2 separate regions of the Homo sapiens genome follow, and region 2 is linked to region 1. The links come from fine-mapping of genetic effects on gene expression. A gene starts in region 1. The other region holds a variant in brackets. All regions are shown on one strand. Distances are from middle to middle. Region 1 holds the start of VASH1 (vasohibin 1). Region 2 holds the start of LOC105370577 (a long non-coding RNA gene).

Region 1 (14,933 bases):
AAAAAAGAAAAGAAATGCAGGTTCTCAGACCTCGCCCAAATCTGCTGAGTAGGAAACTCTAGAGGCAGGGTCCAGCCATCTGTGCTGTAAGGAGCCCCCCAGGTTCTTCTGAGGCACACTCAGGTTTGAGAAGCCCTGCTTTATCCAACCCAGCAAACACTAACAAGATGCTACTTTAGTCCCGACTCAAGAAAATTTGGAACCTGACCATCTTTGTTGTCCCTAACCCAGCCTGCCTGTGATGGATGTAAACAGGCCACCCTTCTCTCTCATCTCCAGGGACTACCTCAGTGGTCCCATCACTTTTTCCCTGTCTTTCCCCACAGCAATAAGGGAGTGAACAAGAGTGTTCTGTGAGCTGGACAGAACAGGAATGTCAACGTTTCCTCCAGGGGGTTCGCCTAGGGCCTGTTTGCACCTGCAGGTCTGACCCTGTGGAGCTAAACCCCCTACAAGCTTCATAACTAATGTTCCCAAAGCAGGGAGCATCTGGCCACGACCCCAGAGAGAAGGGATGAGGACAGAGGTAAAAACAATCTCAGGACCCAGCCTCGGATGTTATGTTTCTTCGCTCCTCCTGCAGTAATAGAGCATTATTTCCCTGCTGGCAGATGCAGAATCACAAGCTGATTGTGCACTGGGCTGGAGTGCATATGCCACCCATTTGTCTTGCAGTCTGGCTGGGCGCTCTGCCCTGCTCATGGGAAGCCTTCTCTCATTGCTGAATGCCAAGCAGGCTGGATAATCACCCCTCAACGGGGAGAGGATCCACCAGAAACATGTCTTCCCTTTCCCAGCACAACTGATGGGTAGGAAGGGCACTCTCGCCCCCCTTCACCCCACCCCCACCAAGCCAGCTGGAGCTGGCTGCTGCCTATGTTCTCCTGTGAGCATATCACAGGGGTACATAGAGCCCTGTGGGCAGCACGATGGGGAAAGGGCATTCTTGGGAGGCAACAGAGCACAGTGGTGAAGAGAGGAGGCTCAGCAAGGTCTGGGTTCAAGTCCTGCCTCCTCCCCTACTTAGCAGGGTTGTGAATTGGGCACGTTTCTTCCCTCTCCTAACCTTCATTTCCTCCAGAATGGGGATGATAAGGACACCTTTCCTCTAGGGGTGCTATGCAAAGCCCTTAACACAGAGTTAACCCCCAAATGAGTGTCTGTAGTTGGTGGCAGCTGTTGATGATAAAATAGATACCCTAAAAAGCCCCCTGGAAGGAGAGTAGATGAAGGACAGAAAATAGGCATTAAACACAGGCTGAACACAAAGGCCACAGAGGAGCTGGGTACTGAGGAAACTTGCAATGGATGAGAAGCCCCCAGCCTGCACTGCAGCCTGCTAGCAACTGTATGTCGCTGTAATTTGCTTTGTAAGTTGATGCACTCAACCACAGGACAAATGCAAAGACCAAATTGGAAAATCTAAGTGGACACCCTTTGTCAAATGGAAAAACATGAGACGAATGAGTGTTTTCTTCCCTTTTTTGTTTGCGAAATCCTTGTCTACAAAATCTTTATAAGCCTAGGTTGAAGACCCTTTCTTACCTAAAACCAGTGGTTCCCAAGTGGGAGTGAGTGTCACAATGGGAAAGGTTGCCACTGGCATCTAGTGAGTACAGGGCCTGAATGCCACTAGCCGTCCTACAGTGCACAGGACAGGCCCCACAACAAAGAAGTGTGCAGCTTTAAATATCAACAGTGCTTAAAGCCAAACACGGTTGCCTAGATTAGAACAAATCACTCACTCTGTGCTCCTCAAACACCTTGTTGAAGCCTGGTTTGGAGCATTGGCCTGAGTCTGCCACATCTTGTGGTTAGCTGGTGGCCTCCTGGTACCGCAGAAAGGGCACAGCTTCTGAACGTGCTCAGCCACTCACTGGCCATGACAGAGGAACAGTTGTTTAGCTTCTCTCAGGCCATTTCCTCATCTAAAAAATGGAAAGTAGAATCCCCATTTGCAGGATTATGGTAAGGATTACATAAATGTAGAGCCCCTGGCCCATGGTAAGGGTTCAAAAAGTTATTGGGATGTGTCATCTTCGACGCAACCTCAGGGGGCCATAGCAATGTCTTACGTATCTGCATCTCCTGCAGCAAATTATGCTACACCATGCATATAGTATAAGCACTCAGAAACTGTTGTCGAATTAAAGTGAAGTCTCCCTTGAGAACCAAGCCTCAAGAAATAAACCCAGCCCACCTCATGGACCTACAGACTTGCATCTTGTAAATGGTTTTGATCTAGTCTTCAGGATGTACCAGCATCTCAGAACTCCCTCTGTTTCTCCCTGTCTCCAAGTCTGGGTCCTATCCATTGAACAGGGAGGCTGAGATCAGACTTTGATTCTTTCGGGGACACCCAGAGCCTTGACCACAGTTTGAGAGAAACTACCACAGCCTGGCCATTCCTGCCTGACTCAATCGCCGATCGCTCCCCGACTATCCAAACACCTGCCACAGTGCATGGAGAAAAACGCTGGGGGAAATACCATGTTTTCTAACAATGGGAGGGATACAAGTCTGGATGAGTGTGATTTGCCTGGAAAAGAGAGTGGCCATCACCCAGTCCTTCAAGTTGAAGACAGCTTTTCTAAATACACACCCCATCCACAGCCACCCATTGACACACACAGCTTGGCCACACCCTGAAACAAACGTGGGAAGACCTTCTCTCTCCCTTAATGTGGAAGACCTTCTCTCTCCCTTAATGTGGGAAGACCTTCTCTCTCCCTTTTGCCACTGCAGTGCTTTCAAGGGCTCACCTACTACCAGCTTCTTCCCTGCTAGTGGACACATCAGGGAAGGCAGACTGGGCCAGGAATCAGGAGAGCCCTGAGTTCAAGTGTAATCCCACCACCAGCTGGCTGTGTAATCCTAAATCCTGTCACTTCTCTGAGCCTCAGTATTTTATCTATGAAATGAGAGTTAGACAAGAAAATCTTGAAGGGTCTTTCGAGCTGTGCTCTACTGCACTCTTTTTTTTTTTTTTTTTTTTTTTTTTTTTTTGAGACAGAGTCTCGCTCAGTCACCCAGGCTGGAGTGCAGTGGTGCCATCTCGGCTCACTGCAAGCTCCGCCTCCCAGGTTCACGCCATTCTCCTGCCTCAGCCTCCTGAGTAGCTGGGACTACAGGCGCCCACCACCACACCCGGCTAATTTTTTGTATTTTTAGTAGAGATGGGGTTTCACTGTGTTAGCCAGGATGGTCTCGATCTCCTGACCTCGTGATCCACCCGCCTCGGCCTCCCAAAGTGCTGAGATTACAAGCGTGAGCCACCACGCCCGGCCTACTCTGCACTCTTTCTACCAGCAGTCGTGGCTTTGCTCCCACATGGACCTGCTGAATGAGATGCAGACAAGCCCTGATCCATTCTAAGACCAGCCCTTGCTGCTTGTCAAGGCCTGGATCTCCTACTACTGTATAAGGTGGCCCCCAGAGAATGGCAGGGGTGAGATCTCTCTGTTAGAGTTCTTTGGAATGGACACAATGAGTCCTGGCCCTTCCGAGCCCCTGGAGGCCACACCAGGCTGCCCGGGAAGTATCAGGCAGAGATCAGATTGCAAAGATACATGGCAACACAGCCACTCTGCCAGCCCACGGGAATCCAGGCCAAGAATAGATAATGCTTATACCAAGCATGCATCATCATTGCTAGGTGTCTTAGAACTAACTGCTTCAGGCGCCACATTGCTCTTAGCTGCTTCTTCCAAATCCCTCAATAAAAGGAATCCAGGCATAACCATCAACAAAAAGAACTCAACTCCAAATCTGCTCATCTGTCTTATCCCCAAGTCTCCCTTTCCTCCAGGCCCCTAGTACTGTCACTGAGCTCAGGTAACAATTGTCCGGATCATGTCTGGAGCTTCACCAGCACAAAGCTTTCTTTCCTATGTGAAGCCAGAGTAGAATGCTGCCATCTGCCAGCTGCCCCACGCTCTCGGCTGTGGGGTAGCTGCAGAGCGGTGTAGGGGAAAAAACATGAACTCTGAAATTATCATATCAGCTGTGCCACCCTGAACAAATTACAATCCTCAATGGCTCTGAATCTCAGTTTGCCCACTTGTAAACTGATGTCAGCAATACCTACCCTGCGAGATTGACCTGGGAATTAAATGAAACTCTGCAGGTAAAGCACCGGACCTACACTCGGGGCTCAGTGAAGAGGAGCTATTTTTATAGACTTTCACTCACTTGGCTGAGTAATTCAGTTCCAGAAACAAAACGGACAGTTTGAGAAAGCAGTGATTTAAAATGAATCCCAAGCCAGAGGTCCTTTTGGCACTTTACCTGAAGTGAACTGGATTCTGTTTGGATTAAGGAAAAACAGACTTGTTCTCTAAGAATTTAGCAGTCAATTCAGACAGATGCCAAATCCATGAAAAACTCTCTGATTTTGTCACGCAAACCCCAGAGCGGAAGTCAGACCCAGGCAGATTCAGGTTTTCAGGTGACCTGAAGCAAATCGTTTCACTGGCCAGTCTAGATCTCAGTGGTTCCAAGCCCAGCTACCATTCGCATTACCTGGAGATCTTTTCTAGACTATGGGTACCAAGCCCCACTCCAAACCAGTTTCATCAGGATTTCTGCAGGGTGCAGACTGAGGATCAAGAATTTTAAGAGCCCCTGGGGTGATCCTAATGTAAGCTCCACTGGACCAGAAGTGCTCCAAGATCCTCGCCAGGTATCCCTGGTGCCTACAACCATGTATGATTCAGAGTAGATATTTAGTATATGTTTATTGAGTAAATGAATGAAGATTCTGACTCAACTTTTTGCTGTTTTCATGTTCATAATTTATGAGGTAAAAGAAGAAAAGAAAAGGAGTTTAATCCCAAGAAAGAATCACAGAGCAGAGCTGTCCAATAGAAATTTCTGCAATGGGCCAGGCGCAGTGGCTCACGCCTGTAATCCCAGCACTTTGGGAGGTTGAGGGGGGTGAATCACGAGGTCAGGAGTTCAAGACCAGCCTGGCCAATATGGTAAAATCCTGTCTGTACTAAAAATTACAAAAAATTAGCTGGGCACAGTGGCAAGCGCCTGTAATCCCAGCTACTGGGGAGGCTGAGGCAGGAGAATTGCTTGAACTCAAGCGGCAGGGGTTGCAGTGAGCCGAGATTGCATCACTGCACCACAGCCTAGGCGACAGGGTGAGACTCCATCTCAAAAAAAAAAAAAAAGAAAAGAAAAAGAAAAGAAATTTCTGCAGTGATGGACATGTTCTATAATCTGTACTATTCATTACAGTATCTATGAGCCATAATGGCTACTGAGTACTTGAAATATGGCTAGCGTGATTGGAGAAACTGAACTTTTAATTCTATTTAATGTTAATTAAATTCAAATTTAAATAGACACATATGACTTCTGGCTACCATACTGAACTTCTGGCTACCATTGCAGAAATTTCTTTTCTTTTTTTTTTTGAGATGGAGTCTCACCCTATCACCTAGGCTGTGGTGCAGTGATGCAATCTCGGCTCACTGCAACCCCTGCCACTTGAGTTCAAGCAATTCTCCTGCCTCAGCCTCCCCAGTAGCTGGGATTACAGGTGCTTGCCACTGCGCCCAGCTATTTTTTTGTAGTTTTTAGTACAGACAGGATTTTGCCATATTGGCCAGGCTGGTCTTGAACTCCTGACCTCGTGATTCACCCCCCTCAGCCTCCCAAAGTGCTGGGATTACAGGCATGAGCCACTGCGCCTGGCCCATTGCAGAAATTTCTATTGGACAGTTCTGCTCTGTGATTCTTTCTTGGGATTAAACTCCTTTTCTTTTCTTCTTTTACCTCATAAATTATGAACATGAAAACAGCAAAAAGTTGAGTCAGAACATCTACCTTTTATAAACACATCTATACCTGTGTGCCTCCATGCCCCTCTTTTACTAACAGCACCCCATTTACCTTTAGGGCAGTCCTTCTCCCCCAACCACCTGTAGTCTTGGCTAATGAAATTGCCCCATCCTCCTCTAGCCAAGGATCCAAGCTAAGTCAACAGACTCTTCTCTCTGGAAATTTCACTCTAGCTTCTGTGTCACAAGAATAGAAAATGTGTCAGAGCAGATTAATATGAGTGTTGATGCCCTAAGACAACATGCGTTCATTTGCAGACCATTAGTCCAGAGTGTGACGATAACAAATGTGACACATGATATGAGTTAGGCGTCATTATCGTCATCCTTGTCATCATGAAAGTGACTTGTACCCAGCAGCTCAGATGTGCCTGCTCCTGTACTAGGTATGTAATTTGCCTAGCTTCTCTTATGCATCCTTTCTTCATCTGTAAAATGGAAATCATACTCATCCTAACTCTTCCACGGTTTTTGTGAAGACAGCAAAAGGAATAATTGTCATGAGGGCCGGGCGCGGTGGCTCACGCCTGTAAGCCCAGCAATTTGGGAGGCCGAAGCAGACAGATCACTTGAGGTCAGGAGTTGGAGACCAGCCTGGCCAACATGGTGAAACCCCATCTCTACTAAAAATACAAAAATTAGACAGACATGGTGGCAGGCACCTATAATTCCAGCTACTCAGGAAACTGAGGCAGAGAATCACTTGAACCTGGGAGGCAGAGGCTGCAGTGAGCAGAGATCGAGCCACTGCACTCCAGCCTGGGTGACAGACCGAGACTCTGTCTCAGGGGAAAAAAAAAAAAAAGAAAAAAAAGAAAAATAACGGTCACGAAAGCTTTGAGCCAAATAAGGAGTTACCCAAGTGTCTGTTGGAGGAGTTGTTCCCAAGGCATAGGTGTGGGGAGTCATGGGAGGGCTTGATGAAGGACCCAGGATCTGAGACCAATTCAAAAGTTGTGCCATACCAGGTTAAGTCACTTGTTCTCTCTGGGCTTTTGGCTTAGATAAGACTGGGTTATACACATCTCTTTCCAGTTTCACCATTTTCTAATCTATTTGCAAGCCCCCTTGCCTGACACATACCCTCTTCCACTTCTATGCACACATGCCAGAAAATTCTCTAGCCTAGTCCATGCTGACCTTGTACCCAACTCATTTCTTCTTTTCCCAGCTCCTCACCTGATTGGGAAGTTGCTCTGGGTATGCACTCCCACAGCTTCCTGAATAACCCTCTGGCAGAGCACCTTATGGAAATCATGCTTAACTATCTCCTCCACTAGTAGGCCATAAGTCCAACTAGAGCAAAGGCCATGTCCCTCTTGTTCACTACTGCTTCTCCAGTGCCCAGTACAGAGTCAAACACATAGAAGATGTTCTATGAGTACTTACTCTTTGAATGAATACCCTACATCTATTTTATTTGTCATTTCAGAAAACACATGGTATTATCTCATGCTGCGTAACAAGTTAGTCCAAAACTTAGCAGCTTAAAACGAGAATAGTCACTTATCCTCTCTCAATTTCTGTGGGACAGAAAGTCAGACAGGGCACAGCAGGGCTGGTTGTTCTCTGCTCCATGTCTGGGACCTCAACTCTAAGACTTAAAGGCCGAGGGCTGGCAAGACCTGAAGTCTCGGTTTGCCATGATCTGGTGATTGACTCTGGCTGTTGGCTGAGAGCCCAGCAGCAGCTGTCAGCGAGAACACCCTCATGTGGCCTCACCATGTGGCTTGGGCTTCTTCACAACATGGTAGCTGGTTTCTTCTGAGGAACCAAGAAGAAGCTGTCTCCTTTTTATGGCCTGGTCTTAAGAGTCATACAGCTTCACTTTCATCACACTTTATTCATTAGACACCAGTCACCAAGTACATCCCACATTCAGGGGGAAAGGAATTAGATCCCATCTTTTGAAAAGAATGGTCAAGAGCTTGCAAGCCAATTTTAAAACCAGCACCACTTGGCTAACACAAGAAGCAATGTATAGAGTGAAAAACAAGTGTCTGAAGAAGTAAGACTTCTGTTCACATTCTAGCTCTGCCACTTACTAGCTGTGTGAGTTTGGGGAAATTACCCTCTGAGACTTGGTTTATACAATACAGGGTGATAGTTGTTGATCCCTAGTGATTTTTCTACGCTTGGAGTCTTCTTGCCTTAGTGAGTTTAAGAAGATCCAGGCTGAACTAACTTTCTTGGAGTCTTGCAATCCTTCCCATCACTGATAACCCTTGGTTTCTGACCCTGGAGGTAGTAAGAGGTTGCTACGGGAGCACAGGGTACCCAGAAAGTTCAGATACTAGGGACAGCTTTAGAGAACAGATGTGAAACCACTGAGGCCCTGGGGTCTCTCTAAGGCCTTTAACCCAGCCCTTGTGTAGTAACCTCAGCTTGTCAAGAAATGCAACGACCCCACAACTAAGGAATCTGAATCTGCCGGCTAAGGCCAAGGAATCTGCATTCTCCCACAAGACTGTGATTCATGCTAACTACAGGCAGGGGAGAGGGGGAGCATCTTAAAGCACACACTCGGCCGTCTCTTCCTAAAGTTCTTGGCTTCAGCCTAGAGATAGTGCCTTTCCCACCATTTACAACTCTATGGCATGAGGGAGGCGGAGGGTGCGTCCAGTGTCCAACCACGCACCACAGCTGGTTGTACTTTCACCTTCCTCTAGGCCAGCGGACCCTCCCCAAGCATTGCCTCCCACGCCCACGTCGCGGTCCCACCCTGGTCCGCGGGGTCCAGAGCGTCCAAAGCCCGGTCTAGGCAGATGGTCTAGGGGTGAGCTCTGCGCACCCCATTCCCACCAGTGCAGGCAATCGAATAAAACAGGGTGACTTTTAACCCTTTTCGTTTCCAGAGATAGTGACCCCCCGTCTCAATCCCTAGATGTCCTCCTCTAAGAACTGTGCGCGCTGGGAGGGACTCTGCGCTCACTCACTGTGACCACCTCGGCTGGGATATGGGGAAACTGAGGCCTACAGAGGGAAGGGAACTGCTGAACGTCCCAAAGCAACACAGGCACTGAATCCGGTCTAGAATCCCAGTCTTCCAGGCCAGTGCTCTCGGTCCTACCGGCTCAGGGCCCCTGCGAAGAATCTTTTTCAAGAAATTCCCGACCGCAGGAATTCCTTCTGCGCTAGGAATCTCCATGGAGTTTGCGCTCCCTCTGGCACGTTGAAAACGTCCTCCGCAGCTTCGCACCGGCTTCGCGGCGCCCTGACAGCTGGGTGAGGAGGGAGCGAATGCCCACCGGCGTCCTTGGGGTAACTTGGGACAGAGGCACCGCCGCGGGGGGCGGAGGACTGGGCGCGAAGGCGCTGGCCCTTTAAGGGGGGGACGGAGCGCATGCGCGGCGCGGGCCGTAGTCGAGCCTGGTGGGCGGCTGGCTGGCAGGGGACGTGGTCGGCGGCAGCGGGGCCCAGGGGCGGCGGGGCTGCAGCAGCGGCGGCCCCAGCTTCGCCGAGCAGCGATCGGCTGGTGGGCTTCTCGTTGGCGGGCTCCGCGTTGGCGGGCTGCTCCCCAGGCACCAGCGCAGCGCGCGCTCGCCCGGCTTCGTCACTCGCCTCCAGCTACATCCGCCGGCCGAGGCTGCGCGAGCCTCCGGGCTTGCGGTCCCCGCCCCGCGGTCCTTCCTCCACCCTCAGCCAGGGCAGCTGCAGCCCGAGCGAACAGCCACGGAGCATCCTCCGCCCGCCCGGGCCGCGCCACCGCCCATGCTGCAGCCAGTCCCAGGCAGCGACCCCGCGGCCGCAGCCCGCCGCTCAGTGACCTCAGCCTGGCCCCTGCGCGCCGCCCGAGCCGGTCCCGCTGAGCCGCGGGCCCCGTGCCCTGCGATGGCTCGGCTGGTGCAGCGCGGCGCCAGGTGCCAGCCGTCCTCCCGCTGAGACGCGCCCGAGTGGGGACCCGCTGGGCCTCGGGGCTCGCAGCCTTCGCCTCCCCGCCGCGCCCGCTCCCTTTCTGGGGACTCCGCCGCTGTTTCTGGGGACGAGGGGACAGGGGACCCAGACAAAGCCCACTTTGTGCAGGGAGTTGGCCGCAGGCGGGGAATGTGCGCGTCGGCGCGCGCCCCCTCCCCGCTCCCGGCCAGCTGCGAGTCTTGGCTCCCGGACTTGTCTCGTCGCGTCGGAGAAATCGCCCCCCAGCGCCGCTCTCCCGCCCGGGGGTCTTGGTTCCGAGCTCGCGCGGCCGGGAGTCGCCTCGGTCTTCCTTGGGGCGCGCGCAGATGTGAGCGTGCGAGAGTTGTGTAGGGGATTTTGTTCCCTCCGAAACTGAGACCCAGGGCGCCCAGTGGGCACCCGTGCCTTGACTCTGTCCTTTCTGCAGCCGCTGGTCCGAGCTGTCTGGCCTCAGTTTCCCTCCGACTTTTCTCCGCTCTGCCAGCCCTCACTGCTGCCCGTCATTGTTCTCGCAGTTAGATGGGGGTGCTTTGTGACGGCTGCCAAGTTGGGGTGTGTTCTCTTTATTCCGTTTTTCAAACAGAACAAGGCCTCCAAGGCTGACCCCAGACAACCCACCCCCTCGGACCCTAATTCACCTTATTGCACTGATTTTTTTTATCAAGTCGTATTTTATTGTACAGGAGCCACGCCCTGATTTCTTAAAGGCGCCTTGCACTCTGGCCATGTGTTATCTCTGCAGCCGGTGTGTGGGAGGCCTCTTGTGAGCCAGTTGTTTTCCCGCCTCCACCACCCCCCTCGAAGATTTAGGGATGCCAGGGGGGAAGAAGGTGGCTGGGGGTGGCAGCAGCGGTGCCACTCCAACGTCCGCTGCGGCCACCGCCCCCTCTGGGGTCAGGCGTTTGGAGACCAGCGAAGGAACCTCAGCCCAGAGAGATGAGGAGCCAGAAGAGGAAGGGGAAGAGGACCTGCGAGACGGAGGCGTCCCCTTCTTTGTCAACCGGGGTGGGCTACCTGTGGATGAGGCCACCTGGGAAAGGATGTGGAAACACGTGGCCAAGATCCACCCCGATGGAGAGAAGGTGGCGCAACGGATCCGTGGGGCCACAGACCTGCCCAAGGTGAGACACACGGGTCAGGGGGGTGATAGCACAGTCTAGGTTTTAGTGACCTTGGGGCCAAGAGTGAAGCCACACTCTCCTCCCACGGGGCAGGGGACCACTGGCTCGGTAAGATCTTTAAAATGCAGTGATATCATACCTGTCTAGGAGAACTTTCTCTCACTGCCATTCTAGGAGGGAGGCTCACATACATTGTCTCCAGGAGGCCCTCCCCGCTGTCTTTTAAAATGTCCACGTTTTACAGGAGGGGACAGCAGCAGATGGAACTAACAAACACAGTAGGATGGCTTGACGTCTCATTTGCTTGATGACACTTGCCAAGCCAGAGAACTGTGAGCAGACAAATGTAATGAATGACTAAGGAGATGCAGGGCTTCATATGTTGAGAAAATATTTTCGTGCATTATGTCATTGAATTCTCCCAACAGCCTTGTGACGTAAGTACAGTTTGGATTCCCATTTTACAGATGAGAAAGCTGAAAACTCAAGTAGGAACTCAAGATCCCACAGCCAGTAAGTGGCAGAACTGAGATTCAATTTCAGGTCTTCAGGAGAAGGGCGGGGGGTGGTGGTGGAGGGAAGTGTCCAGGTCCTCTTCTCTGTTGGACAGTAGATTCAAGCACATTAGAAGAGGTCTTATGGAGAAGCATAAAATGAAATAATTTTTCTGTGTTGGCTGTAACTCCTCCTCCATGACAGCTATACTTCAGTTGTGTCACCAACGAAAACAGAGGCTGTATCTCATTCATCTTTGTCTTCCCAAGGCCTCCTGTGTGCCTGGCACAGAACAGGCACTAGTGTGTGTGTTTGCTGAATGAAAGGGTATTTGAGAGTTTCTGTGCTGTACGCTGCTATATGGAAATACATGCCAGATATTAAAAAAAAAAAAAACATGATCAAGACTAGGAGGCACTTTGCCAAATGCAGAGGCCTGAAATCTCCAAAAAAGAGCCCTTTGGACTGAGTTCAGAGCCCAGTGCTTAGCCCTGCCTGCCCAGGTTGGAAGGAAGGGGGCTAGGAAGAATGGAAGTTAGTGTGAATTAGACATGAGGACAAGTGGCCCGTTTTGTTTTTACCAAGTTATTGGTACAGCCATCAGAAAGTGTCTTCTGGGAAAAAGAGAATCAAAGGTTGAAGGTTTAAATACTGCCTAATGTTTCCAGGGGAAACAAAATGTAGATTGATTTGGAATGGCCGCATAAATGTGCTCTGCACTGACTTAATATTTATTTAGCTAATCCCCTAGAGTTGGATGTTGTTTCCAGTTTTATTCCTAAAATGAATACTATGGTGAACATTCTAAAATATAAATTTTGGGGTTCATCTCTGATTATTTCCTTGGGAAAAATTCTGAAAGCGAAAGTATTGCGTCAAAGGATATTGACATTGGTAGGGGTCACCTGCTTATCTATATGGCCTCTTCCACCTATTTGAGATGCAGTTTTCTTATCAATAAGATGAGGTTGATTGTGGGGAAGAAATGAGAGACTGTGTGTTAAAGTATTTAACAAACTGTAAAGCCCCAAACCAGTACCTGGTTATTGGATATCAGTTACCTTTTTTTTTTTTTTTTGAGATGGAGTCTCACTCTTTCCACCAGGCTGGAGTGCAGTGGCATGATCTTGGCTCACTGCAGCCTCCACCTCCCTGGTTCAAGTGATTCTCCTGCCTCAGCCTCCTGAGTATCTGGGATTGTAGGCACCTACCACCACACCTGGCTAATTTTTGTATTTTTGGTAGAGATGGGGTTTCATTTTCAACATTTTGGCCAGGCTGGTCTCAAACTCCAGACCTCAGGTAATCCACCCACCTCAGCCTCCCAAAGTGCTGGGATTACAGGCGTGAACCACCACGCCCGGCCAGACATCCATCACCTTTACTTATGTGCTTTATCAAGCGGCAAGACTGGGTTTTGCTCAGATCATTTGTCCCGATGAGGCCAGAGTCACACCCTGCTCCCACGTGAACAAGTCGGGCAGCTCTCCAGCCATCTTGCTTATGTCTAAATCAGGCCATAAAAGAGTGTGAATGGTTCCCTGCAGAACTGCCACCACTCCTGGGAACTAAAAAAGAAATAGTGAGCTCACTAGTAACTGGTCTGTAATGTCATTCTGTCATCTTCAGTCCTCATGTACAGGAAAGACACGGATGAAGGAAGTCTAGGGGTGGGGGCTGTGTTGTGACAGACCCCTAGACTTCCATCGCTAGGGTAGAAGGAATTTTGTGAGAGGTTTGGAAAAATTTGAACCTCCCCCTCTTCAAACCACAGATCTCAGATAAATCGCATGAGTCTGCATGAGGTCCCTCCTCTACCTGGGCTCTGAGTAGAAAGGTACCCTTAGAGTCTGGGAGTGCAGTGGAGTCCAGGAGGCCTTGGAGAGAAGCAGCGTGGGTTGGGTGCCTGGGTGCCAGGGTGCCAGTGGCAGGGTGGGCTGACCCCGCCCTTACCATCCCTAGGGGCCATGCCACTGGAGCTGGCACAGGGTCATTCCCTACAGCGGCCACACAGTGTGGGGCTCAAGAAGTGTTTTGTTGGGAAAATTGGGAGATTTCTCACATAAAGATCCAGAGTTTTGGCATCTTTTCAGAAAATAAGAAGACTTGGGAACACATGGGAATCTGCAGTCCCACGTGGCAGCTGTCAGCTGGGGCTGGGGAGTGAGTCCTACTCCCCCATCTTGCCACTGTCTCCACCACTCACCTACCAGGCCTGCCTGCCCCGTGTATGTTACTTGCCCGGCCCCTGCATGTGGTTGAGTCTGGGACCCCTGCAGGCTGGTGTCATAAAAGGAGAGCACTCTGGAGTCAAAGCTACCATGTTCAAATCCTTGATCTCCCATAACTACTTATATGAGGAAGACAGGCAACTTTCTTGTGCCTCAGTTTTCCGCAGCTGTGAAATGGAGCTAATAGCAATGCCCATCAAGAGGATGTTAGAGGAATTAATGATGCAAAGCATGTGATGCTTCATTAAGTGCCTCTAATAGATACCCAGTAATGGAGCAGGGAGTGAGTGTTCATCGACACCCCACTAGCGCTTTGGAGAAGCAGCCTTTACAGGGATGATGCCAGTATGTTATAGGGCAACAATTTCTAGAAAGATCCCAAATCCAGCAACAGCTTAGGCTCCTTGATAAGAGTCTGTCCTTGATGTTTCAGGCTTCCACCCCCTTTAAAAGCTTAGTGGCCACTGACCCCAGACCCAGCTGCTGAAGGTCTTTTATGGTCTCTTATGGCTCAGGCCACAGAGCTCCTGCAGAATGGGAATTTGGACATCTCCTCTAGCTACTTATTATGACTCCAGAGTGCTTTCCTTTGATTTATTTATGAGACAGCGTCTCGCTTGGTCACCTAAGATGGAATGCAGTGGCACAGTCATGGCTCACAGCAGCCTCTACCTTCTGGGCTCAAGTGATCCTCCCACCTCAGCCTCCAGAGTAGCTGGGGCTACCGGTGTGCCCTACCATGCCTGGCTAATTTTTTTATTTTTTGGTTGAGATGGGGTCTCTCTATATTGCCCAGGCTGGTCTCAAACTCCTGGGCTCAAGCCATCCTCCCGCCTCAGCCTCCCAAAGTGCTGGGATTACAGGCAGGAGCTACTACACCCAGCCTGGACATCTCCTCTAAAAGGGTAACGTTGCTGGGATTAGCATGTGCGAGGCACACTGATAATGATGACAGTGAACACAAATTAAGTCTGTGCTGTGTGCCTGACCCTGCTCTAAGGCCTCGACCTGCAGCATCTCATTCGCACTATAAGGCTGATTTTGTGTTGGTGCCCACTTTATAAATGAAGTGTCTGAGGCACAGGGGAGGTCAGGAGCTTCACTAAAGTCACGACTAGGCCGGGTGCGGTGTAATCCCAGCACTTTGGGAGGTCGAAGCAGGTGGATCACTTGAGGTCAGGAGTTCGAGACCAGTCTGGCCAATGTGGTGAAACCCCATCTCTACTAAAAATACAAAAATTAGCTGGATGTGGTGGTGCATGCCTGTGATCCTAGCTACTCTGGAGGCTGAGGCAGGAGAATCACTTGAACCCAGGAGATGAGGTTTTCAGTGAGCCGAAGTT
Region 2 (17,078 bases), 37 kb before region 1:
CAGAAATCATCAGGCCAGGCATGGTGGCTCACGCCTGTAATCCCAGCACTTTGGGAGGCTGAGGTGGGTGGATCACCTGAGGTCAGAAGTTCAAGACCAGCCTGGCCAACATGGTGAAACTCCGTCTCTACTAATAATACAAAAATTAGCCAGGCGTGGTGGTGCACACCTGTAATTCCAGCTACTTGGGAGGCTGAGGCAGGAGAATCGCTTGAACCCGGGAGGCAGAGGTTCCAGTGAGCCAAGATCACGCCATTGCACTCCAGCCTGGGCAACAAGAGTGAAACTCAAAAAAAAAAAAAAATTTTTTTCAGAAATTATCTCCTCCCATCCTGTCCTTCTCCCTCCGTCTTCCTCAAATGGCAGGAGGGTGAGGCTATGATTGAAAGAAAACCACTCAATTCCTTGTATCCCCCCAAACACATGTACACACATGCAGCTCTGTTCCAACCTCCTGGAAGGAAACTGGCTGTCACCAAAGGATTCCAGCCAAATACTTGGGGTTCCTCAAGGATATCTTTTGAAAACAACAACAACAAAAATGTAGATTTTTTTTTTTTTTTTTTTGAGACAGTCTCGCTCTTGTTGCCCAGGCTGGAGTGCAATGGCACGATCTTGGCTACTGCAACCTCCACTTCCCGGGTTCAAGCGATTCTCCTGCCTCAGCCTCCTGAGTAGCTGGGATTACAGGCGCCTGCCACCATGACCAGCTAATTTTTGGACTTTTAGTAGAGATGGGGTTGCACCATGTTGGCCAGGTTGGTCTCAAACTCCTGACCTCAGGTGATCCGTCCGCCTCGACCTCCCAAAGTGCTGGGATTACAGGCGTGAGCCATCGTGCCCAGCCAAATGTAGATGGTTGAACAGCTCCAGTCACAATGTAAAGTTTTAATTTTCCTCTGCAATAAAAGCAGCCTTTTTCTTAATGTTTTCTTTGATAGAGGGAAGCCCCCACCACCACTCCCGGCTTCTTTGCCCCAGCCCTCCTCTTTATCTAACCCAGCCAGATGTGTGCATTTTTTTTTTCCATTCACATGGCACAGGGTTTGAAGATGAGCTGTATCCCCCATTAGCCACTCTTTCCACCCCCGGAGAGACTCTGATTGTGGAGGATTCGTGCTGCTGACTGTAGATAAAACAATCGAGATGGGGGGCTGCTTTGGAAACGGGGGGGGGTGTGGGGATTTTTCCATCTGGAATCACAAGGCTTTTGGTGGTAGGCCCAGATGGAACCACGATCTGTCTGTGGAGACAAAGCTTCTTTTGGAACTGGTCATGGCCACAGGAATATGAGGTTTTTGACAATACGGTGGCCAAGAGATAGGAAACTGAAGTGGGTTATGAAATGCCAAGGACAGATCACTCTGACTCTGGTGAAGTAAGCCCATTAGTAAGCTGAACTCATGTAATTCATCAAGGAGCTTCCTTGAGCCGGTGAAAACAAGGATTGTAGAACTGTGAGTTCAGACCTGGACGTTAGAAAAACAACTCCCAAGTCAGCCAGTCTCCACCCTCTTAGCTTAAGTCATCTTTCGGCTGGGAGCAAACATGCTTCCTTACCACACCAGAACAATGCTAGGTCTTCAATTATTGTAAAGAATTTTACAAATGCTGAGTGTCCCTGTCGACACTATTAATGAACATCCTCTAAGCTGCACTTAAGCCAAATCCCAAGGGATAATTAGGGATACGGAACAATGATACAATGTAGATTGCCAGTTTGCTTGAAGCTCCCAACATCCAATTAGAGGGTGGTAGCGATTTCCCAGAGCACAGGAGATGAAAACCATCTGTCACAGCCTGCTTCCTAAATCCTCCCTTCCAGGAGCTCTTTCTGTCACCTAATAATGCCAAAAAGGAGCACCTTCTCGGCCCTGAAAGCCCATCTTCCGACCAGACATGAGTTAACAAGCTGCGCGCCCCAGGGCAGACCACATTTCCTCTCTGAGCCTTCATTTTCTCTTCTATAAAATGAACCTGCTGGACATGGGTTGGTGGCTTTCAAACTTTTGAAAGCAGTGGAAACTTTTGTTTTTCTCAAGAGGAAAGCTTGATGATGGAACTCAATTTGGAGTATCTTTATGTCACTGAGAGGAAGTATAATAAACACTCCACTAATCAGACTGCTGGAGGGAGACGGCTCAGCTCTTTTGTGTCTTAAATCTCCAAGCAGACTATCAGTCCCCATGGATTGGATCACTGCCTGCAAGTATTAACTGCTTAATAAATGTCACGTAGGAAAAAATGTGTGCTTCATTGGGAAACTGTGTATCCTTTAGAGCATACCCTTCCAGGTTATCTGAGTGCGATGCTTTAGGGTCTCTGGGCCATTCATTGCCTTTGAGCTATTTTTCAAATCTGTAAATTGTAGATAACTGATAGCAATGTAAATAATTCCTGTTTGCAGGCATGCAAATACATTCTGTCCCGAGGTGGTTCAATTTACTTCCTATTTTCCAAAGGAAAGCCAGTTTCCTTCTATTTGAAATATGTTTCCTTCTATTCGTAAATATATTTCCTTCTATTCGTAAATACACTTCAACATTGCTTTTCTCCATATAAATTTGTGCCTCTTTTGACTTCTCATTTGAACCGGTTGTCACATCTTACCAGCCTTCATTAATGATGCACTAAATACAATTTTAACATGTCCATTTTATGTTTGTAGGAATGTCATGATTTTAGCTTTCTTTGAAAATTGCCTTAGTTAAAAAGTTTATCAATAAAAATGAACATTTTTTTTTTCCGAGTTCTCCCCTGATGTCCAATAGCATTTATACTCACACACAGTTGACTTTAAAAGTATAATGTTATGGAAATGCCTTTAGGAAAGCAACACATGCTCATTGGGAATAAGAAATGAGAGAAAGAGCCACATGGGATACTAGGAGCTAGGCTCCCTTAGGCATAAAAGGGCAAGTCGGGGAGCAGTTACCCCAACTCAAGAGAGAAGCTATTGAGAAGGCTGGTGATAGGAGCTGAGGGCTGAAACAGGCGGAGGCAACCAACCCAGGGCAACCCAGTGTAATCACACCAGACCAATCTGGTTCAACTCTTTTTTTTTTTGAGACAGAGTCTCGCTCTGTTGCCCAGGCTAGAGTGCAGTGGCGCAATCTTGGCTCACTGCAAGCACCGCCTCCCAGGTTCACACCATTCTCCTGCCTCAGCCTCCTGAGTAGCTGGGACTACAGGCACCTGCCACCACACCTGGCTAATTTTTTTTACTTTTAATAGAGACGGGGTTTCACCGTGTTAGCCAGGATGGTCTCGATCTCCTGACTTCGTGATCTGCTCACCTCGGCCTCCCAAAGAGCTGGGATTACAGGCGTGAGCCACCGTGCCCAGCCCTGGTTCAACTTTTATGTAACAAAGTCGTGAGTTGTTTTTTGGTTGCCATGGATCCCCAAGTTGAAAGTCAAGTAACCTGAACATGCCCAGATGAACCAAGTGTGCAACCACAAGTGGAACCTAAGTGCTGGAAGCCGGGAGCAAGGACTGCTTTCAGAGGTGGACTGCACATGGCAGGATCCAGGATCCAATCAGATTGAGCTCTAGTGTCACCCCGTGGCAGGATCCAGTCAGATCATGCCTCCCCAGCATCACCTCATTGCAAGATCCAATCAGATCATGGTTCATTACCCTTCGCCTATAAAACCTGCCCCAGCCCACCAGCTAGGCGACATAGATTTCAGCCTTGCCTCCTGTCTTGCCAGTCAATTCCCAATAAAGGTTTTCAGTGCCATGGTATTGGCTTGTGTGTGCATCAGGCAGTGAGCCCATTGCTTGCTGGGTAATACCAGCAGAAAGAGAACAGAAATGAATATTCCAGCCTCACTCTGCTCCCTGCCTTCATGGGCCAAATCCAGCTGGACCAAGAGGGAAAGGGAGTACACATGTTCATAGGCGTCAGCCTTCTTGGTGGAGGGGACATCACAGTCATTCAAACAGCGAACCAAGACAGCTTGGGATGAGAATCAAACCACTCATAGCTCACTGTCTATATTAACATGACTTTACTATTCCACTGTCCTCATCAAAGTAACTTCACTATTATTCCAGAAAATGCTTGCCCAGGAAGATAAAAGCTGTAAATAACTCTACTGTTCATCCCAGGAACTTCCTGAAGGACACACCATGTCTTCAACAGGAAGCATCAGTTTATAGGTTCAATAGGAAGACAGTTTATACCCCAAGGTTCTTTGAACGCCTCAGCCAGAAATCCTCACTTTGCTGTGTCTACCAATCATGATCTTAGCAACCCCCATCAAGCATGCCACCTCTGCACTGAAAGAGCCACCTTAAACCAGGCCTCAAAGTCTCAATAAAAATCACTTTGCCCTCCCACTTTGGGAAGCTACTGAGGCTTTGTGGAGGGGGTACTCTACCTTACCACGGTGAACAATCAACTCAGCCTTGCCTTCTCCGCAGGTTGCTCTGGTGATATTTAGGAGATGGCATTTGACAGAAGGGAAGCATATTTGGAGATGATTGTGTATGTGAGCCTGAATCATCCAGGCAGGTTTCTTCCCTGCTCCAGTTCAGTGGGACGACTGCATAAATATTCTTTCTTTTTCCTATGTGGATACAAAATATTGAGTTTGGGGGCTGGAAGGAATCCCAGCGATGAACTCATCCCTCCCCTCCTTTATGGATTAGGTCAGTAGAACTTACACAGGGAGGTCAGCCAGGGGGCTGGGATCTGAATTCAAGTCCTGCGGCTCTGAGCCAGGTGGCCTGCATTTATTCATTCTCTTGCTGCCATGTTTCTCTTTTCTTTTCTTTTTTTTTTTTTTTTTTTTTTTTTTTGAGATGGAGTTTCACTCTTGTTGCCCAGGCTGGAGTGCAATGGCATGATCTCCGCTCACTGCAACCTCCACCTCCTGGGTTCAAGTGATTCTCTTGCCTCAGCCTCCTGAGTAGCTGAGATTATAAGCATGTGCCACCACACCCAGCTAATTTTGTATTTTTAGTAGAGACAGGGTTTCTCTATGTTGGTCAAGCTGGTCTCGAACTCCTGACCTCAGGTGATCCACCCGTCTCGGCCTCCCAAAGTGCTGGGATTACAGGCATGAGCCACTGTGCCCAGCTTTTTTTTTTTTTTTTTTGGTTTAACAATTGTTTGCTGTGTACCAGGTATTGTGCCAGGTGACGAGCACTCAGAAGTGGGGCCACGTTTTCGAGATTCTTGCCCCGTTTTTCCTTCCGCCCCTTTAAAGCAGATCCTGGGCTCTGTGCTCCTTTACTGAAGAAAGTGGTGGAAGGAAAGAAAGTCGATAGCAGTCTAAGAACTCCCAGCTTCCAATCCCTAAAGTCTAAACATTTGGGAAGAACAGAGGAGATTACAGGTAAGGACCCAAAATGTAGGAAAGGTTTTTCCTGGGCTGGTGTTGGAGGGGAGAGGATGAGAACAGAGAAGGGATGGGTCTCAGGAGGAGCAACCCAAGAGAGAAGGCCTGCGTGGACAGGACTCGACGGGGCATGGAGGGCTCTGTGACATGAAGCGGCAGAGTGACCCCCATACCTCCCCAGAGCCATGTGGACAAGACTGAGGGCCAGCCCAGGAGTGACCTGTGGAACCAATAACCAGCACCAATGCCCTGGCACCATTACGGTCTCGACATCATTAAGACCCTGAAACTCTAAAACAACCAGTGGAGAGCTGGTGCTGCAGACACTCAAAGAGGCAGACGCACAGAGCCAAGGAGGCTCTTGGATTTCGCCCCAAAACTGGGTCAAGGGGACAGAGTCTCCTCCCTCCCATTCCCGACCAGTGCGCTGGGAGTGGCCACACTAGGCATGGAGCAGCCTGTTTGCCAACACACTCTGGTCATAGGAGAAAAAAGAAAATGCCTCCTGAGTTTGGTTTTAAGGAGCTCCTTAACAAAAGGCAGCCCTGAGCAAAGTGATGCTGGGTGAGGGATGCTGCTTTTGCTTTTAAAATAAGCCACAATCTTCCCAGCAAACAAAGAGTGTCTTCTGAGTAACTCAAAGAATGTTTCTTTTCTCCTGGTACAGGGAGGGCATCTTTCAAATGAAAGTCCGTATCTCCTGTTTTCAGGAAGAAACTAGATTAGAATGCCCTTCTTGCATCTGCTGTTTTTCAAGTGCCTTTAGCTCAAAATAATCCTTATGCCAAAGTGGTATGTTTTGGGGTGGCATATCCTGGCACCTTTCAGCAGGAACAGGGGTGCAGAGAGGGGCCATGTGGAGTAAGCCTGTCCCTGAGGGCCAGGAAGCCCAGGCAGCCTCACTTCCTCTCTCTCTCAGCAGCTGATGTGACCCTGGTCTGACCTTGCAGCTGCTCCTCCTGGCTCCCTGCTGGCTGCAGGCCAGGGCTCAGATTCCAGTCTTTTCCACAGCTCTAGAGGACCAGACTTTCAAAGGAGGGAAGGAAGGGAGGAAGGGGAGGGCAGGAAGAGGTCAGAAAAGAGGATGGAGAATTTAGGAGGGGAGAAAGGGAAGTGAGAGGAGCGCAGGAGGCTGGTGGGGAAGGGAAAATCAGACCGGAGGAGAGGAAGGAAATGAGTAACTAATTCTGAAATTGCGGCACCTGAGGCCTCAGTCCTTTTGGGCCTTAACTCTTGCCCTGGGGCCTATCACAGGGGGCCCAGGAGCACTGTTTGCTGTGACCATCCTGGGCAACATGGCAAAACCCTGTCTCTACTAAAAATACAAAATATATTCGATTCATGAAGCACCTCAAATTTAGATTTGCAAAGACCTCCAAACAAAACACCTGCATTGTAAGAAGACTGCCTGCTAGGCACAGTGGCTCACACCTGTAATCCTAACACTTTGGGAGGCCGAGGTGGGTGGATCATTTGAGGTCAGGAGTTCGAGACCCACCTGGCTAACATGGTGAAACCCTGTCTCTACTAAAAATACAAAAATTAGCCAGGCGGGGTGGCAAGCGCCTGTAGTCCTAGCTACTCGGGAGGCTGAGGAAGGAGAATCACTTGAACCCAGGAGACAGAGGCTGCAGTGAGTGGAGATTGCATCACTGCACTCCGGCCTGAGCAATAGAGTGAGATTCCGTTGCCAAAAAAAAGATTGCTCAACCTTCAATTTTGAACTTGTCCCCATCCTGGGTCACACCAGCTACACTACACTGAGTCAGTATTTTTCATAAATTTAAAGGCCATGGTGTCCAATTTTATTGCAGTGTTTTCTTTGTATTAAGGAATGAATCTGTTAGTGGCAAACATTTAAAATATATTGCCAACTTTATTTAATTAATTTATTTATTTTTGAGATGGAGTTTTTGCTCTGTTGCCCAGGCTGGAGTGCAGTGGCAAGATCTCAGCTCACTGCAACCTCTGACTCCAGGGTTCAAGCGATTCTTCCGCCTCAGCCTCCCGAGTAGCTGGGATTACAGGCGCCTGCCACCCTACCCAGCTAATTTTTGTATTTTTAGTAGAGACGAGGTCTCACCATGTTGGCCAGGCTAGTCTCAAACTCTTGACCTCAGGTGATCCGCCCACCTTGGCCTCCCAAAGTGCTCGATTACAGGTATGAGGCACCGGGCCGGGCCAAACTGCAAACTTTATAATGCTGTTAGGGTTCTTCTCCTGTATTTTTAATTTATAGGGAGCTTGAAAAACGGGTGTGGCCCAAGTCTCTCTCAGTTGCTGAGATGCCCTGACGGCACCTCCCACAGCCCTGGGCCCCCTGTAGGACCAGTCTCCCCTGGAGGACACCCACAAGAACAGGAAAGCCCCACCAAAACGCTAAGGAGGGAGGCAGAATTGGTGACACTGGGTCCCCAGAGATCCCATGGCTGGTGACACCATAAAAACTCGTTTTCTTCCCTGAGAGATGAAGAGGAGTGGGGGCAGGAGATGATCTACATGCCAACTCTGGGAATATGTTCAGTCCTATCACTGGGCCCCATTTTTGTTGGTGGCCAACGCAACAGTCTTTCCCTGACTCCTTCCCATGAGCTTGCCTTTCATCATAGGGGATGAAAGGCCAAAGATACCTTCCCAGCCTCTTCTGCGCTAGAAGTAGCCTAGTCAATAAGATACAAAAAAAATTCTCCTGGGTTGTTTTTAGAAAATCTTTTCCTCTCTGATAAAAACAGAGGGGCAAGTCCAGGCACAGTGGCTCACGCCTGTAATCCTAGTACTTTGGGAGGCCAAGGTGGGCGGATTGCCTGAGCTCAGGAGTTCAAGACCAGCCTGGGCAACATGGCAAAATCCCGTCTGTACTAAAAATACAAAAAATTACCCAGGCGTGGTGGCGCGTGCCTGTAATCCCAGCTACTCAGGAGGTTGAGGCAGGAGAATCGCTTGAACCTGGGAGGCAGAGGTTGCAGTGAGCTGAGATCACACCACTGCACTTCAGCCTGGGCGACAGGGCAAGACTCTGTCTCAAAAAAAAAAAAAAAAAAAAAAAAAGAGGGGCAAGAGGAGAGCTCCTTTGCCCACCTCCTTGTTTCTAGATTGGGTTGGGCGTGCCGAGTGAAGACAATGTGCTGGCGCTCAGGCAGGGCAGGAAGTGTGCTAAAGCCAAAAGGGTGGAAGGACCTCGCTGAGCTGCTGCACGAACCCCTGAACTGTCTACACCCAGGCTTCTTAATTATGGGCGATGATTAAGTGGCTTTTTGATTTAAGCTACTCTTGCACAGGTGTTCCATGATTTGCAGTCAAAAGCATTTCCAACACCCAGAGCTGTGCTAGGACTTGTAGAGGATACAGAGACTTCCAAGATTTGATTTCTTCCTTCTATTCTAGAAGCTTATATTCAAAGTAGGGAAACTAGACATATGTACAGGTGTTCAACATCCTTAAAAATCAAACAACTTGGAGTATAATCAAATTTTAAACTGAAAGTAACAGCAATTTCACTCTTGAGAACTTTTCCCAAGAATGTATGTTCAGAGATATTTGCTGAATTGCAGCATATAGTAGAGAAAATGTGGACATACCCTAAATATTTAGCAATAGGGATTGAAATTACAGCACATACATAAATGGAATACTATGAAGTCAGTAAAGATGGTGATGTTGATATATACTTAATGATGGGAATTCTATAGACAATACTCAGAAAAAAAAACAGGTTATCAACTGTGTACTATATAAATCCACTCATGCACAAAAACATCTGAGTCTGGTATATGTGAAACTGTCAGCAGTGATTATTG[G/C]TATACAGTGGAATCATGATGGATTTTTATTTTCCTTACACTTTTCTGTACTTTTTCCACTTGTTGCAATGAACACATATTGCATTTGTAATAGTTGCACTAACAGCATTTAGAAATGCAACTGAATAGTAAGACTATCTGTGCTAATAGAGTACAGTGAAGAGCTTTTAAAAATCTACCAAAATTCACTGTGCATCAACTATTTGCAAAACAACATGGTATATAGGAAGGGGATGGAGAACATGAAAAATAGATCCACAGTCATACACACAGTCCATGGCTTTGAAGGGTGGCAGAATATGCCATCCCCAAAATATGCCACTTGCCTTGATTATTTTGAACTAAAGGCACTTGCAAAAGGGGTGCTCTGACCTCCCCTTTTCTTCCTAAAAACAGGAGATAAATCTCCCATGTGAAAGGTCCCCTCCCTATACCAGGAGGAAAGAAACATTCTTATCATCAGAGATAGGAAGTTGAGACCAAGAGAAATCTGTACATACAGACCTTGTTAAAATAATTCTTACGTTCTTTTAGTCCTCATGTATATTTTAGTTACTCTTCCACAATTGCCTCTCTTTGTTCAACCTAGTATATAAGCACTTAGGTTTTGCCAGTTCTTTAGATCTTCATTTTCCTTTGGGGGATCCCATGTACATGTCAAAACCTGTGTGCTTTTCTCCTGTTCATCTGCCTATGTCATCTTAATTATCAGTCCCAACCAGTAACCCTAAGATGGTTGAGGTAAAGATTTTCTTCCCCTACAGCTTTAAAGAACCAAGTTTCTACCTGGGCAGCTAAGACACAGACAGGTGACATAGTTCCATCCATTCTTAGGAGCTTAGAATATTTGTTACATATCCTAACCTGCCCAATGATATGATAGATATTGAAATAAAACATCGAGTTTTAAGTATTTGGCTTTTATGAAAAAAAATTGGAACAACAGTTTTACATTATAATTTTATATACAGAGTATTTAAGTCAGGCATTGTGAATAGCTTCTGGGAAATGCTTTCAGACCTTGTAAGTTTTGCCTAGGATTGTTTGCAAAGTCTGATTTAACACCCTGTATATAATAGAGAAACCTAATTCACACCCAAACCTTTTGTATTTCTTAGAGTTACAAATGCAGCAAAGCATCTCTTAATTTCTAGAACCTTTCCAAATCATAAATGGTAGTATCAGTTTAAACCCTGTGATGTTCTGATAGGCTTATCACATATGTGGTGTGACCCTGATATTACCAGCAGCATAGCTTAATTCTTGAATTTGACCCTGTGTTAGTCCGTTCTCTCGCTACTAATAAAGACATACCCCAGACTGGGTAATTTATATAGGAAAGAGGTTTAATTGACTCACAGTTCAGATGGCTGGGGAGTCCTCAGGAAACTTACAATGACAATGGAAGGGGAAGCAAACACATCTTTCTTCAAATGGTGGCAGGAAGAAGTGCCAAGCAAAAAGGGGGAAAGCCCCTTATAAATCAGCTCTTGTAAGAACTCACTATCACGAGAACAGCATGAGGATAAGTTCCCCCATGATTCAATTATCTCCCACCAAGTCCCTCTCATGACACGTGGGGATTATGGGAACTACAATTTAAGATGAGATTTGGCGGGGGACACAGCCAAACCATATCAACCCTCTTCCCCTGTTTCTGGGTATATTCTAGCAAACTAGGTAGCATTCTAGCTTTCCTTAGACTAGAACGATGTTTAAACAATTGTCCTTACATTTAACATTTGAGTACAGAAAAAGATCGTCTAGGTTTATTTACTAAAACTGTCAGCTGGGTTCACCAAGCCACCCAAAATCCAGATAACATGGATTCATCCCAAATTCTTGTGCTCACCACTGGCTCTGAGCTGCATCTGCAGAATCACATCACTTTAGGAATCACCTTGCCATCCTGCTGTTGTTGCTGTTGGCACACATACCATTGACCCATCCGTGGCACTCAAACCACTCCCTAATTTGCACAGGGGCAGGTGCATGTTGTGTGTGTACATGTGTTTGCGGGCATGCATGTGTGTGTGCATGTGTTTTGAAGGTCTTACCAAATATTGGTGCATGGCCCTCTCACCTCTTTCCTCCCACCTTAATGCAGGAACTGGTTTGTCTCTCTTTTGTTGCTTAAAGTTCTGCTGGCCGGTACCCTTAGTATCTTCTTTATTCATTTTCAGTCAGCAAATAGTTATTGAAGACCAACTATGTGCCATGCACTGTACTAGGTGCTGGGGAAAACAGTAATAGTCCTTAACTTCAGAGAGTTTACAGTCCACAGTCTCCTGTCAAAGACAAACCTTACTCAAAGAATCATACTACCAAATATAGTTTCCCTAAGTACTTTTTAACTTTGTATTTTTAAAATAATTTTAGACTCATGTAGAAGTGCACATAGATATACTATATAGTTCCCGTGTACCCTTAATCCAGCTTCCTCCAATGGTAACATCCTGCATATTCATAGTACAATCATCACAACTGAAATGGGAAAAGTTCCCTTGTCCCCCTTGCAGGGCGTGCGATGGGGATGTGGCTTGCTTTTTCAGTGCCCTGCTGCTCAAACCTGTAGGGGAGCATACAGACAGGCACGCTATGGGCCTCCGACCCCATGGCAGTGTCTAGGGGTGAATGTTTACAGCTGAAGCCCTAGTGGGCGTGTTACTGTGTGTGTGTGTGTGTGTGTGTGTGTGTGTATGTGTGTGTTTTGAGACCGAGTCTCGCTTTGTTGCCCAGGCTGGAGTGCAGCGGTGTGATCTTGGCTCACTGCAACCTCCGCCTCCCGGGTTTAAGCAATTTTCTGCCTCAGCCTCCCGAGTAGCTGGGATTACAGGCGCCCGCCACCGCGCCCGGCTAATTTTTGTATTTTTAGTAGAGACGGGGTTTCACCATCTTGGCCAGGCTGGTCTGAAACTCCTGACCTCATGAGGCCTCCCAAAGTGCTGGGATTACAGGCGTGAGCCACCGCACCTAGCCCAGTGTGCTCTTTTAGTTTTGCTTTTAGTTTGGCCGGCTATAGGTGGCTTGTTTTAGTCAGCTCAATTAGACCCCTGCCTTATTGCAAGGACAGAGGGCTTTCTATATCCCCAGGTTCTTGCCTTGGTGCACCAAAGAATCGGATCATATGTGGGCTTGGAGAATGAGCGGAAGGTTTTACTGAGTGGAAGTACCTCTTAGCAGATGGGGGAGCCAGAAGGGAGATGGTTTTCCCTGGAGTCGGTCTGCTTGGCGGCCCGAGCGCTCCTCCGACTGCCCCAGCCAAACACCGCGTTGTTTTGCCAGTCAGTGGCCTGCCGGCATGCTGGTGCCTGTGGGTGTGTTCCTCCACAGAGCACTCCTCTTGACTTCCAGCTGCTGCTGTTTCTGCCTTGCTAGGGTCTCGGGTTTTTATAGGCACAGGATGGGGGCATGGCAGGCCAGGGTGGTCTTGGAAAATGCAACATTTGGGCAGTAAATTCCTGTCCTCACCTAGGTCGGTGGGGGTGGAGCCCTAGCCAGAGACCACGCCCTCCTCTACCCAGCACTTCCCTTCTCCCTTCCCTATCATTTAAAAGAACTACACCCTTCCCTTCCCAGCACTCCTGTATCTAACCAGGAAATGTACATGAATGCAATACTATTAACTAAACTACAGCCCTTATTGGATTAGCATTTAGCCATCTCTAAGTGCTTTTTTTTGTTTTTTTGTTGTTTTGTTGTTGTTGTTGTTTTGTTTTGAGACACGGTCTTACTCTGTTATCCAGGCTGGCGTGCAGCGGCACAATTACGACTCACTGCAGCCTTATCCTCCCGGGTTCAAACGATCCTCCCACCTTAGCCTCCTGAGTAGCTGGGATTACAGGTGTGCAGCACCATATCTGGCTAAGTTTTGTATTTTTTGTAGAGACTTAGTCTCACCATGTTGCCCAGGCTGGTCTCAAATTCCTGACCTCAAGCAATTCTCCTGCCTTCACCTCCCAAAGTTTTGGGATTACAGGCATGAGCCACCATGCCTAGCCTCTGTGCTAGCCTCTAAGTGCTTTTTAATACACTAATTAATAATTATAACGCCTAGCCTCTGTGCTAGCCTCTAAGTGCTTTTTAATACACTAATTAATAATTATAACAATCATAGGCAGTAAATACTACCATCACCCCTATTTTATAGATGCAGGAACTGAGACCAGAACAGTTACATAACTTGCCGAAGAGTCAGCTTGCAGTGGCATGACGAGGATTGCAAATCCAGGCAGCCCGGCTGTAAGGGATTTGCTCCCCACCACTATACTGTCCCTCCTCTTAACACTGCCCAACCTAGCCAGAACATGTTTTCTTGTTCAAACCCAAACAACCTATCATAGCTCTACAATACATGGCCAGGGAGCTATTAGAAAAAGTTGTAACACTTGGATGACATCTTTAAAGCCAAAATTTTGCTTCCAAAATCAAAGTTTGTTTCAATGGCAGAGGCTTCCCAAAGGAAATGACTATTTCGATCACTGTTCATGAAACAATATTCTTTGGGCTAACAAAGGCTGACATTTCAAACATTTCCCTGTGGTTGAAAATAACTTCAGCTGAAATATTTTGATTCTCAAAAGGAAGTTTCTTTGTAAGAAACGGCAAGAAATGCAGGTGCAGTTAAGGCACACCCAAAACAAAGGCCTCTGAAAATGCAGGGCTTCCTCTCCAAATCATACAATGTTTCCAACTGTCTCATTCCCACTGAAGGAGATAAGAACATGCCTTCCCCAAAATATGCTGCCCTGGCATATTGACTATTTTGAGTTAAAGGCATTTGAAAAACAGCAGGTGCAAGAAGATCATTCTGACATTCCTTCTGTTTCTTAAAAGCAGGAGATGAAACTGCCATGTGAAAGATGCTTTCTTTCCCACAGTATAGGGAAAGTATACTTTCCCTATACTACAAGGAAAGTAACAGTCTTATTATCAAGAATGGAAGCTTTAGTGGAGAGAATTCTGTACAGACCTTGTTAAAATAACTTACCTTTTTTAGCCTCCCCACTGAATTTAGTTACTTTTTCACAATTCTACTATTCTGTCTAATTCAGTATGTAAGTGTTCGACTCTAGCTGTGTCTTTGGGTCTTCAATTCTTTATGAAGGCCCCCATGCCATGGAAAACTTGTACTAAATATACTAGTATTCTTTTATCCTGTGGATCTGTCTTATGTCACTTTAATTCTCAGGCCCAGCTGAAAAACCTTAAAAAGGTAGGGGTAAAATTCTGCCTCCCCTATACCACACAACTCTAAGCCACATGAAATCTGCAACACATGCACATTAATCTGCTTAATGTTGGAAAATACCAATCCCAGAGGAGAGAGAAATAGAAAAGAAAAATTAAACAAGAAAAAACACCTTTTTGCCTAACCATGCATTTGTGGCATGTAAACGTGTTACCACAGTGCAGAAGTGACCTAAATGACCAAAGAGCCCCACCTCTCCCTTCTCCACGGTGAGATGTATCACTACCGTGGGCATCCTAAAGCCAGCTCAATCACCACAATGAGGATTCTCTTTTCTGAGGCATTACCGCCCTCTTTAACATTTTATGAATCCATTTGCAGCACAATCATTTGAGATTATAGTTTGGTCTTGCTCTCCCATAGATTCGTCCCTGCTCTGATTTTAAGTGGGTAGCCAGACCCTTTAGAATTGCTTGCCTTTGAGATTTCGCAGCACAGAAAGCTAAAGAGCTTCAAGTCCATGTCTCCTTCGTTGCTGGTGGCAGTAGGGTAAGGGGAAATGGGATAAATGTAATAAAGAGATGTGTTCTACATGAAGAGGGGAACAAGAGTAGCAAGGGGTGTTGCTGAACCAAACTGAGTCTGTTTGCTCATGCACAATGGAAAGCCACACCCTGGAGCATTTTTGCAGATATTTCTGTAGAGAAAGGTACATTGCAAGACCAGCCTTGAAGCAGTATATTTAAGGGAGAGATTCTGAGGAGGAGCTTTGGGGTGGTTAGTGATTGGCAGCAAAGGAGAGGAATTTTGGAAAGGCCCTTGAACGTGTATAGTTGTGTCTTCAAGCTTCTTCATGAGTCACACACGCAAATTCAGGGTGAGTTGGTATGAAATATGCAGTGGAAATTTTGGCTGTGATGTCAAAAGTCACCCACTGGGCAAGTAAGTCTATTCTGGGAAGACTCTAGTCAGCCATATTGGTTCCAGTTTCAGCCAGTGAGCCAGTTATTGTTGCAACTGGAGGGGATTGTATCAAGCTGTTTCCTTATCTACCATCCTGTAAGTCAAGCTCAAGGTTTCTGGTCAGTGACCAATTTCTTTTCTTTTCTTTTCTTTTCTTTTCTTTTCTTTTTTTTGAGATGGAGTCTTGCTCTGTCACCCAGACTGGAGAGCAGTGGCACGATCTTGGCTCACTGCAACCTCCGCCTCCTGGGTTCTAGCAATTCTCCTGCCTCAGCCTCCCGAGTAGCTGGGATTACAGGATGCACCACCACACCCGGCTAATTTTTGTATTTTTAGTAGAGATGGGGTTTCACCACATTGGCCAGGCTGGTCTCGAACTCCTGACCTCAAGTGATCCATCCGCCTTGGCCTCCCAAAGTGTTGGGATTACCACCATGCTCAGCCCGTGACCAATTTCCTTAAGCCTGTGGGGTACAGCTCCAGGGGCAGAAGATGTTACTGAAATGCCAGGCATCCCATTGCTTGCTGCACAGAATGCCAGGTGTCCCATTCCTTGCTGCACAGAAAGCCAATCACTGAGACTACAAGTATTACCAGAGCAGAATGCTTGATTTGGGTGCTGTGGCCAAGGAGAATGGGAGGTCAGTCTCAAATCTGTCTCTTCAATCAACTAAAATTAGGAGTTTATATAGCAAGGAAGGAATGTAACTATGTGTGGGAAAACAGGAATTAGGGAGAGTAAAAAAGAGTTGGTCAACAGACAGCAGGTGGTCTGTGAGGCAATCATGACTGGTGAGAGATCTCACTGTCCAGACGTGGTGATCTGGTAAGTTTCAGTTCTTTGATACTGTCTGGGAGGCTTGATGGTTGGTTTCCTGAGAAAGGAACTTGAATAAGACAAATGTAAATTCCTCATGTTTTAAGACTGGGAGGGTCCATTCCTATGTTTATTCCAAAGAAACCATAAACATCAGTTCCATGGAACAATTGGTCTGGTTTCAAAGAGAGAATCCCCTAGCCTGCAATGGGGAGCCATGCATCTCTTTCTGGAAAGATCTAAAGAGACAGATGGCTATTGGTACACCTAAGGGTGCTGAACTCCAGGCACTAAGGGCCTCAAGTTTTCCCAAGAGTCCCTTGCCCCAAGTGTGGCATGGATGCAGCAGGAGCAGGAGCCGAAAGGGACTGTTCAAGCTGAGACACAGAGGTCGCAGAGTGACCAGTGGGGCAGGGGACTGGCAGCAAATCCCAGATGAGTCTTTAGTGCTTAAGGCTTTAAGAACATTGAATGACCTGGGGCAGGTGGAACACTGTCAGAGAGACTCAGTAATTACTGAAATTTAACTTCCCACCACTTTCACAGGTGGGATTAATCCACGTTGACTTGAGGAGTACACAGAAATGTTGTATTCTTGAATATCTGCATTTGTGGACCAGTAGTCATACTGAGTCTATATTCATTTATTTGTTCATTTGGCAAATAATGACTGAGCTTATACTATGTGTTGTACACAGTGGTCCCCCAAGCTTCCAGTGATCACACTGGAAGGTGTCCTTCCTAAACCAAGGAGAGGCCACTGCAGTACTGCTGATATAGGAGAAGGCCCCAGGACATCTTATGGGTAGCATCACAAATGACCCACGTTGCACTGATGCTCTTACACTGTTAAATTAAGTGCAGCATAATGTGATGTAGAGGAGTAAAATTTTACCTCTACCTTCCTTAGGGCTTATCAACTGAGCTTGCAAATTAAATGACATAATAAGAGAAAATCAAGA

The links.
Region 2: its variant is fine-mapped to the expression of VASH1 in whole blood (INTERVAL, PIP above 0.99).

Annotation. Positions count from the first base shown.
Region 1 is chr14:76,752,267-76,767,199 of GRCh38, forward strand. It overlaps VASH1 (vasohibin 1), which reads left to right and starts at 9,202. Exons shown (of 7, transcript NM_014909.5): 1 at 9,202-10,864. The coding sequence starts at 10,556. RefSeq lists silencers at 9,169-9,358, 9,459-9,728.
Region 2 is chr14:76,714,201-76,731,278 of GRCh38, forward strand. It overlaps LOC105370577 (a long non-coding RNA gene), which reads right to left and starts at 12,511. Exons shown (of 2, transcript XR_007064273.1): 1 at 12,319-12,511. RefSeq lists an enhancer at 6,300-6,459. The variant G/C (reference allele first, on the strand shown) is at 9,146.